3 separate regions of the Homo sapiens genome follow, and all the other regions are linked to region 2. Evidence: fine-mapped expression QTL. A gene starts in region 2. Each other region holds a variant in brackets. All regions are shown on one strand. Distances are from middle to middle.

What was found. PIP is the estimated chance that this variant, and not a neighbour inherited with it, causes the effect.
Region 1: its variant is the best candidate, but not a certain one, in a credible set for the expression of ARL15 in lung (GTEx, PIP 0.85).
Region 3: its variant is the best candidate, but not a certain one, in a credible set for the expression of ARL15 in whole blood (INTERVAL, PIP 0.56).

What each region holds. Positions count from the first base shown.
Region 1 is chr5:54,251,040-54,253,804 of GRCh38, forward strand. All of the region lies in intron 1 of ARL15 (ARF like GTPase 15), which reads right to left. Among named protein-coding and RNA genes, the nearest start is that of ARL15, 58 kb to the right of the region's middle. The variant T/C (reference allele first, on the strand shown) is at 1,091.
Region 2 is chr5:54,309,452-54,312,216 of GRCh38, forward strand. ARL15 (ARF like GTPase 15) reads right to left here and starts at 1,122. Exons shown (of 5, transcript NM_019087.3): 1 at 981-1,122. The coding sequence starts at 1,028.
Region 3 is chr5:54,346,545-54,349,309 of GRCh38, forward strand. All of the region lies in intron 1 of LINC01033 (long intergenic non-protein coding RNA 1033), which reads left to right. Among named protein-coding and RNA genes, the nearest start is that of LINC01033, 27 kb to the left of the region's middle. The variant T/C (reference allele first, on the strand shown) is at 1,332.

The DNA.
Region 1 (2,765 bases), 58 kb before region 2:
TATCTTCCTAATTATTAAGCATGGCTTGGAAAAGCTGAAGGAAACACAACACTGCTAATTTGCACAGAGGCTTAGAAAGTGATTCACTTGAAAGCCCCTCCCCTAATTCAGGTAAGAAGGAAGAAGATAAGTAAACAATGATGTAAAGCTTTAATTACTGGCTCACACTTTTTATGATAAAACACACACTGCAAAATTCTAAGGTGGCCAAACAACTCTTAAGCATGCTTTGAACTTTAGTGCAAAGAAAGAGATACGTCTGTAGGCTTTTGACAAACATCTAGGTATTTTCATTTAATTTTCCCACTCTTGTTTGTTGAGTATGTTTTTCCACAAGCAGAATTAAATTAAGGAAAGCCAGGCTTTTTAAAAAGTAATTGAATATTAGCATTAGTCAACAGCAACAGTTTGTAATATGGTATTTCCACTGCAGCACCTAGGGATGGCAGAAAACGGAGGCTGCTGATAAACTGTACTGGCATCTTATCTGTACCCTTACTAGATTTCTAAAGTTTATTTAAATGGTTATTCTGTATCTGTGTCTCATAAAGGGATGTCATCAGAACTGCCACCTAAGGAGCTATTCCTAAAGACCTCAGACCTACTGATTCAGAATCTCCAAGAATAAGGATCCAACAAGTAGATTTTAACTTCTTCAGTGTCCACCACACTGTCCTGTTTAAGAACACCTGTAGTGTAATAAGGTAAGCATGAAGTGTCCCCAATTAAGAACACAATCAGCTTTAGAGCAGTGGTTCTCAGCCTTGTCTGCACAATAGAATCACCCTGGAGGACATTAAAAAATCCCAATGCTAGGCCACACCACAAACCAATTAGTACATCAGAATCCCTGGGGTAAGACCTAGATATTGGCCTTTTGCTGCCCATGGGATTCCCATAGTCAATCAAAGTTGACAACCAGTGAAGCAGAGGACCACGTCAAACAACTGTTTAATGAATAAATGAAAAAGACTAATTTAAAATTCTCTGAATTTTTCCTTATTGAACACAAGAAATGATATTCCATGCTATCAGCAACATGCAGACTAGGATCAAAGGGCTATGGACCTTATAGTAACTGGAGAGATTG[T/C]CTGTGAGTCATCAGGCAGACAACAGAAACCAAACTAAGCAGGTGGCAATGTGTTAGGAAACTCCTGAATGCATTTAACATTTAGTAAAAGGATCTCGACATCACTCCAGGCAAAAGGAATGTTGATCTAGTAGTTAAGGTAAATTTTCTTTATGGAAGAGACTGCCTCATTAAGTCACCTTGTGCAATCCAGTTCATTTCTTCAAACCTTTCTGTTGCAAAATAGCATCAAGAAAGTTCTGAAGTCCAGGTTTTAGATACTTATTTTGCTCTTTTTAAAAGGAAAACACTTGCTACTTAGAAGTTCATCTATGCTTTTGCTCCCTGGACTTTCTGAAGTTTCAGCAAACAAGTCTTTAATAAAGATACCATGCATTTAACAAAGGACAAGATTTCTCTCACCAGTTTAACCACCGACAGGGTTCATGTCACAGGATGAGGGTCAATCAGGATTGGTCAAAGTGATGTCTAAAAGGAAGAAGCTGAGGCAAAATTAACATGGAGTTCATTTGGGCCAAGGCTGAAGACTGCAGCCAGGGACACTTCCAAGTTGCCTTAGGGGGTGCTCCAGAGAACTCAAGAGAGAACAAGTTTGTTTTGTTTTGTATTTTTGGAGACAAGGTCTCACTCTATCACCCAGGCTGGAGTGCAGTGGCCCAATCTCGGCTCACTGCAACCTCTGCCTCCGGGCTCAAGCAATCCTTTCACCTCAGCCTTCCGAGCAGCTGGGACCATAGAGGCGCGCACCACCATGCCTGGAATGTTTTTTATTTTTTGTAGAGACAGGGTTTTGCCATGTTGCCCAGGCTGGTCACAAACTCCTGAGCTCAGGTGATCCACCCGCCTTAGCCTCCCAAAGTGCTGTGATTACAGGCATAAGCCATCATGCCTGGCCCAGAGGTCAAGTTTTTTTTTTTAAAAAAGCAAGAATCAGGAGAGGGGACAATTACAATCATTGTTCACCAGGAATTCTCATTGTCTTACAAAAATAACATTGATTATTGGCTATACATTGTTGAACTATAGGTATACGGCATTTTATGGCTTCTCGGCAGCAGTCAGCATAGCACTCAAATAGCAAGTGGCTTCAAGAGGTAATTATTTAGCTCAAGGGGAGTGATATGACTCCTGTTTCATTCCAATGCCTCTCTTGGGCCTGAAAATTTAAAGGGGCTCACGTTCTTCAAATAATGGATTATGAAGCTGGGTCATACCACTTCCACAGGGCACCAAGAGCAGCCCAAGTAATCAACATGTAACCCCATGTAATCAACACCAGCCCAGGGAGCTGGGAGTAGAGGTTAGGAAGATTGAAGAACTGATAAAAACAAAGTACCACCAAATGAAAATCTGTACTCACTCAATTCAAACACAAGTGGGTTCCCTGCCAAGCCTCAAGAGAAAACTGGAAATAGGTTAATTTTAAAGTTACAGTTAGTTATGTAATTGACTTAAGGAATCAGATTTTTTTTTTTTCTTTGAGACAGGGTCTCACTCTGTCACCCAGGCTGGAGTGCAATGGCGTGATCACAGATCCCTGCAGCATCGACCTCGGAGCTCAGGTGATCCTCCCACCTCAGCCTCCCAAGTAGTTGGGACTACAGGTGCACACCACCACGTCCAGCTAATTTTCCCATTTTTTGAAGAGACAGGATTCGTCATCTTGCCCAGGCTG
Region 2 (2,765 bases):
CCAGGCCAATCTGCAGTCGAAAACCGAGTGCATGTGTCCAACAAGATGACAGGAGGGTCAATGTTTCTAACCGTCTACTTCAACTCTGCATGGCAATAGCGGTTCTGCCCAACATGGTAAACACAATAATCGTATAGGATCGAACACAAGTCTCTGTAAATGAGGATCCCCTTAAACGCAAACAAGCAACTCTGGGGAAATATAATTTCTGGAACAAAACATGGTGCTCGCATAATTCCACAAAGACACATAGAAGTCCATTTTTAAAATGATGTTCGGTCCCAGCACTGTGCTGACACTTTTCCCACCTAAACTTCTCAGCACAAGCCTGGCCTAAACAGCCGGGTTCCAATCCGTGCACAGTGGAACCGCGGCACGCACCCAAGACCGGAATGGTGGGGCTATACCTGTCCCTACTCAGTCCTGTTCGTGCCAGCCTGCGAGGTAGTTTAGACCCGTCTGCTTTATGGTAATGTGCTTTTAAAACCCCGCCACGACCGAGGTCATAGCTTTAGAGATTTAATAACAATCAAATGACCAGGGCTGCTGGGCACTTAGTGAGCCATTCTGGTTATGGCTCTTTAATAGCACCTGGAGTTCTGCTCCAGGGAGAGAGGAAAACTCCTGCTCCCCCGGAAAGAAAGTCCTCTGCGGAGAGCGCAGAGGGAAGCCAGGAAGCCGATCGCGGGCAGGGGACGCGCCGCCGCGGCCGCCCCATCTCTCAAGCAGCCCCAGCGCGACCCTCGCCCTGCAGCCGTGCTGGCCCAGGCCGCACCTTTACCTGTCAGCTCCACCACCCACCCGCCCTGGAGGCTGCCCCTCCGAGTCCAGGGAAAGGCTTACCAGCCGGCTGCGGGAGAAAGAACCCCAGAGGCATCCTATCCCAAAGAAAGAAAGCAAAAAGGCTGCTCCTCAAGGCAGGGGGCCATCGGGCACGCCGAGATCCGAGAGGCGACATGCCACCCCTGCCCTGCACCTACCAGATAATCCATGTACAGAAACGCCTCAGTTATTCGGAGATCAGACATCCGGCAGCCTAAAGCATCCGGAACGGCTCCGAACCCGGAAAAAAAAAGCAGCGTCTCTGGCTGCGAGCGAGCAGCTCCTGAAAAAGCCAGCAACAGCGAAAATAGCCGAAAGCAGCCGACTAGCCGGAGATTACACAAGGGGCGCGGCGATTGGCCAGGCGGGCGGGCAGAAGGAAAGAAGCGTGCTCATTGGCTGCGGCGCCTATAAAAGGCAGGCCCCAGCTGGTGGCAGGAGAGAAACGCGGGAGTGGTGGGGGATGTGGGTTCCTGTGTGCTGAGCGGAGGAGCCGGGGTGGGGGCGGTGCAAGCGGAAGAAAGAGCCAAGAGAGCGGAAAATCGGCTGGTGCTGTCGCCGCCCGAGTTTTGTGTTTCCACAGCTTTCCAGTTGGGTACAACGGAGCCGAACTCCGTGTTCCCGGGCTGGAGAGCCTTGGTGTCCCCGCCAACCCCCAGTAGGAAGCGAGCGCTGTAACATGGGAGGCGTGGTCGCCACTGATCTTGTCTCCCCCCAGAGCCTTCCTAAAGGCTCTGCCGCCACGAGACTGCACCACCGGGAAAGAAGTGTGTGAAAGTGTACTCCGTAAACAGGCAATCCTGTACGCGACTTAGGGGCAGAAAGACCCTCCGCACTTTTATCATTTGAAAGTAAGGTGGACGATTCCAGCCTGGTGTCCCTGAGGGTACACACAGGCCCCCCGCGCAGCCAGAGGTGACTCAGGAACCCCCCTTCCAACCCCTGCGTAGAACGCCGAACAGTCTTCGGAGAATTCGCTTTCCTCCACGTGAAAAGGAAAAGAAAAACATTTGAGGAGTCGCAGTAGTCACTTGTACTCCCCAAACACACGGGAAGAAGTTGATCAGTTTGCATGCTTGGAGTCAAATTACGCTCAGCACAAATCCAACGCCCCTGAATTAAATGAGCAGTAGAAGCTCTCTGCAAAAAACACAACAGTATTTGTGACCCGGTATTATTTCAGGAGGTAAAAACATCTATAAGCAGATGCATTTGGGACGTATGCATTTCCTGGTAATGTCAATATCGCATTAAGCTAGTGGGTTTGGGCAGGGAAAGCCTGAATCGGACAAGAAGCTGGCTTTTTTTTTTTTTAGGCTATAAATAACCAGACCATGCCAGACACATGTTCTTAGGCTATGTTCTTAGGCTCAGGTGATTGGAGTGCCCCCCCCCCCATCCCCACCCTCAGGGCTTAGGGAGAATGGAAGATAAGGTGGATGCTGTCACCTGTATTAATAGTTAGGGCTTGCATACATACAGTAAAGTTTCAAGAGTGAAACTTCATCGACTGAACTCTTTATGAAGTGACTGCCTGACTCTACACGCGATGTTTTAGGAGTTGAATTTTTACTTTCCCCCTGACACCTTTCTTTTTTGTATCCTCAAGAAACAAATTTCCGTACCGTAAGTTTACCTGGGACTACCAAAACAGTTCTGTTAGATGACCGTGGAATTCACCCCAAATGTGCACATAACCAATAAGGGCGAGGCAGCCCCCTAGAGGGAGCTGTAGGTTGATGAGCCAAGTGATTTTAGGTATGCAGTCTAATTTCCAAACCTGTTTCCTCAGCTGCAAAACGAGAATTCCTACAGCCAGAAAGTTGTGAGGGTTTGGGCGGGGGGCGGGGTTGGGGAAGTTGTTTTTGTTTTTTTGAGACAGGGATTCTCTCTGTCGCCCAGGCTGGAGTGCAGTGGCGCGATCTCGGCTCGCTGCAACCTCC
Region 3 (2,765 bases), 37 kb after region 2:
CATGAACTTGTTGATTCTATTCTCTTCTATGGACTGTCTTAAATTTTTCTTTCTCGAAGCACCTGGGAGGTTACGTTTGCTAAAGTTCAAAAGCCAGAAATATTGTCCATTTAGCTTGGCTAAAGTCAAGTATTAAGAAATTTTAAAAGGACTTTATTAAAGAGTGCTATGGTTAAAAGCCAGCGTAATTAAAAGTGGTATTCAAGCTCTAATGGCCTGGACTTCTTGGGAAAAACAGGAGACACTAGAGACCCTTTCCTGGCCCTGTTCTTCCAAGGACTCCACCATAAAGCCAATAACCAATTAAGAAACTTAAAAATTGGCAAATGAAAAATCTTACAACTACTGTACTAATCTTCTGTCTGTGTAGTTATATATGTGTCGTGTGTGTAATGTTTATATAAAGAGCTCTAATTAATTGGCTTAAACAAAAATAAGTGCTTAAATCAAATATTTTGAAAGAAAAATAAAAACTGTAATGCCTTTTAGTTTACATAACTGTACTAATCTTTAGGAAATAAGAACAGCTTTAAAAATTATTGGCAAAATTTAAACATTTGGTCTAAATTATGCAGGTCAGATATTAAGTTTACTAAATGCTTTCAGGTCATAATCAGCTTCTTTGACTTTTGAAAGTTGTTCAATTTACTTACCTTGGATATGTTAGATTCTAGATGAGGCCTGAGGACATGTGGAATTAGCCATGCACCCTAGCTATGCAAAGAAGGTTGTAAAGAAGAGAGATTTTATATAAGAAAGTATATTGTATGGTAAATTCTTGTCCGAAAGTAAAATGACTGGTTGTTTAAAAAGAGGGATATTTAGGATGAGTCAGAAAGTCCAAGCATGTCATAGATTGTCTGCATAAGTTGTGAAATAATTTATGAAACGCATTTATCCAAGAAACGTACAACTTAAAGGTGATTAGGGCTCCTAAATGCTTCATAAAATGCCACTATGACTCTTAACTGTACAGCATGCCTGCTTAACAGCTATGTAAAGCCTGTGACACGTGGAGTTAGATGCTGGAAAGAGTCAGACCTTACCTGAATTTTTGTCTGGGTCCTAGGTTCCACACTGGTACGTAATTAGAATCACTTACTAACCAGGCTTTTCAGCAGAGGTAAAAATCACTAAGGGTTAACAGTATAACATGTATATGAGACTACTGAACAAAACAGTTTACATGCAAGGTGTGTAAGGAAAGTAGAATATACTTTTGGTAAAAGATTATTAGAAGTCATGGGAATTTGAACTTTTTGCCTAGATTAAACAGTTAAAGGATTGTTTTAAATTAAATAAAGCTAAAGGTTTAAACAAGTTGTGGAAGG[T/C]TTATAAAAATTAACCTTGCCGGTGGCTCACGCCTGTAATCCCAGCACTTTGGGAGGCCGAGGCAGGCGGATCACGAGGTCAGGAGATCGAGACCATCCCGGCTAAAACGGTGAAACCCCGTCTCTACTAAAAATACAAAAAATTAGCCGGGCGTAGTGGCGGGCGCCTGTAGTCCCAGCTACTTGGGAGGCTGAGGCAGGAGAATGGTGTGAACCCGGGAGGTGGAGCTTGCAGTGAGCCGAGATCCCACCACTGCACTCCAGCCTGGGCGACAGAGTGAGACTCCGTCTCAAAAAAAAAAAAAAAAAAAAATTAACCTTGCAAAAAATTCTATGAGTGAAAATACTGACTAAATTTAAAGGGGTATTATTTGGTTTTTCCATAAATTGAACATCAAAATAAAAGCACAACAGGTTTTTCTTAGAGCACTAATCTGCCCTTTAACAAAAATTGTAAAGGATTATAAAAGGTTTATAAAGTTCTTATTTTATGATCAAACTAATTAAGATTGAATACATTTGTCTGTAAGGTTTTATTAAGAATTGGGTTTGACATCAATAATGCACTAATGCAACAGTGACATTTGGCTTATTTGGTATAAAAATCATGGGAAGCATTAAAATAATGTTGAATCTTCAGGTTATATTTTAGTGATGATATTAATATATTTTCCAAAATTATATATATATATATATATAGGGATTTCTAAAACCCTAATATGTCTGAGTATATGATATCAATCATAATTAAGGTTATAATGTTAAGTTATTGTAGACCAGAGAGATAACGAAATTTCCTTGTCAATTGTGTTTTTAACTATCACTATTTAAACTCATTTCTACAATTAATTGCTTAATGCTCTTGCAGTTTCTAAAAACTCCATAAGCACACAAAAATCCCAGAATATGATGTCTTTTAAGAGGTCATGAAAGGATAGAAAGAACCCTGAAAAGCACTCTTGAATAAAGTTTTCTAACAACTTTAAAATTATATCATGGGTAAGAATTCCCCATGAATTCCCCAAGAATTGGTCTGGATAAGAACTCCTGAAACCTTAATAAAAAGACTGACTGATTTATAAAACTTCCAACTTAAGTATAAGAAAAATTAATTAAATACCAAGAAAATACTTTGCCCAATTATCATGTGAAATCAGCCAATACTAGATATACAATTTGAATGAACTCCACAGTGTAAGTCAAATTACCTATGATAACCCATTAGTTATCAGTGCTATGCTCCTAAATTGGTTAAACAACTGGTATTCATTCAATGTTAAGTATGGACTCATGAAGAATCAGGATGGCTGCCTTGTCCTTCCTGAGTCCTTAAAGCTTTTGTTATTAAAGGTTCTGCATTCCATGACTTGTCATGGAAAAGATAAAATGATCCAAATTGAATATATTGATGTGGTGATTTATAAATCGCAGAAA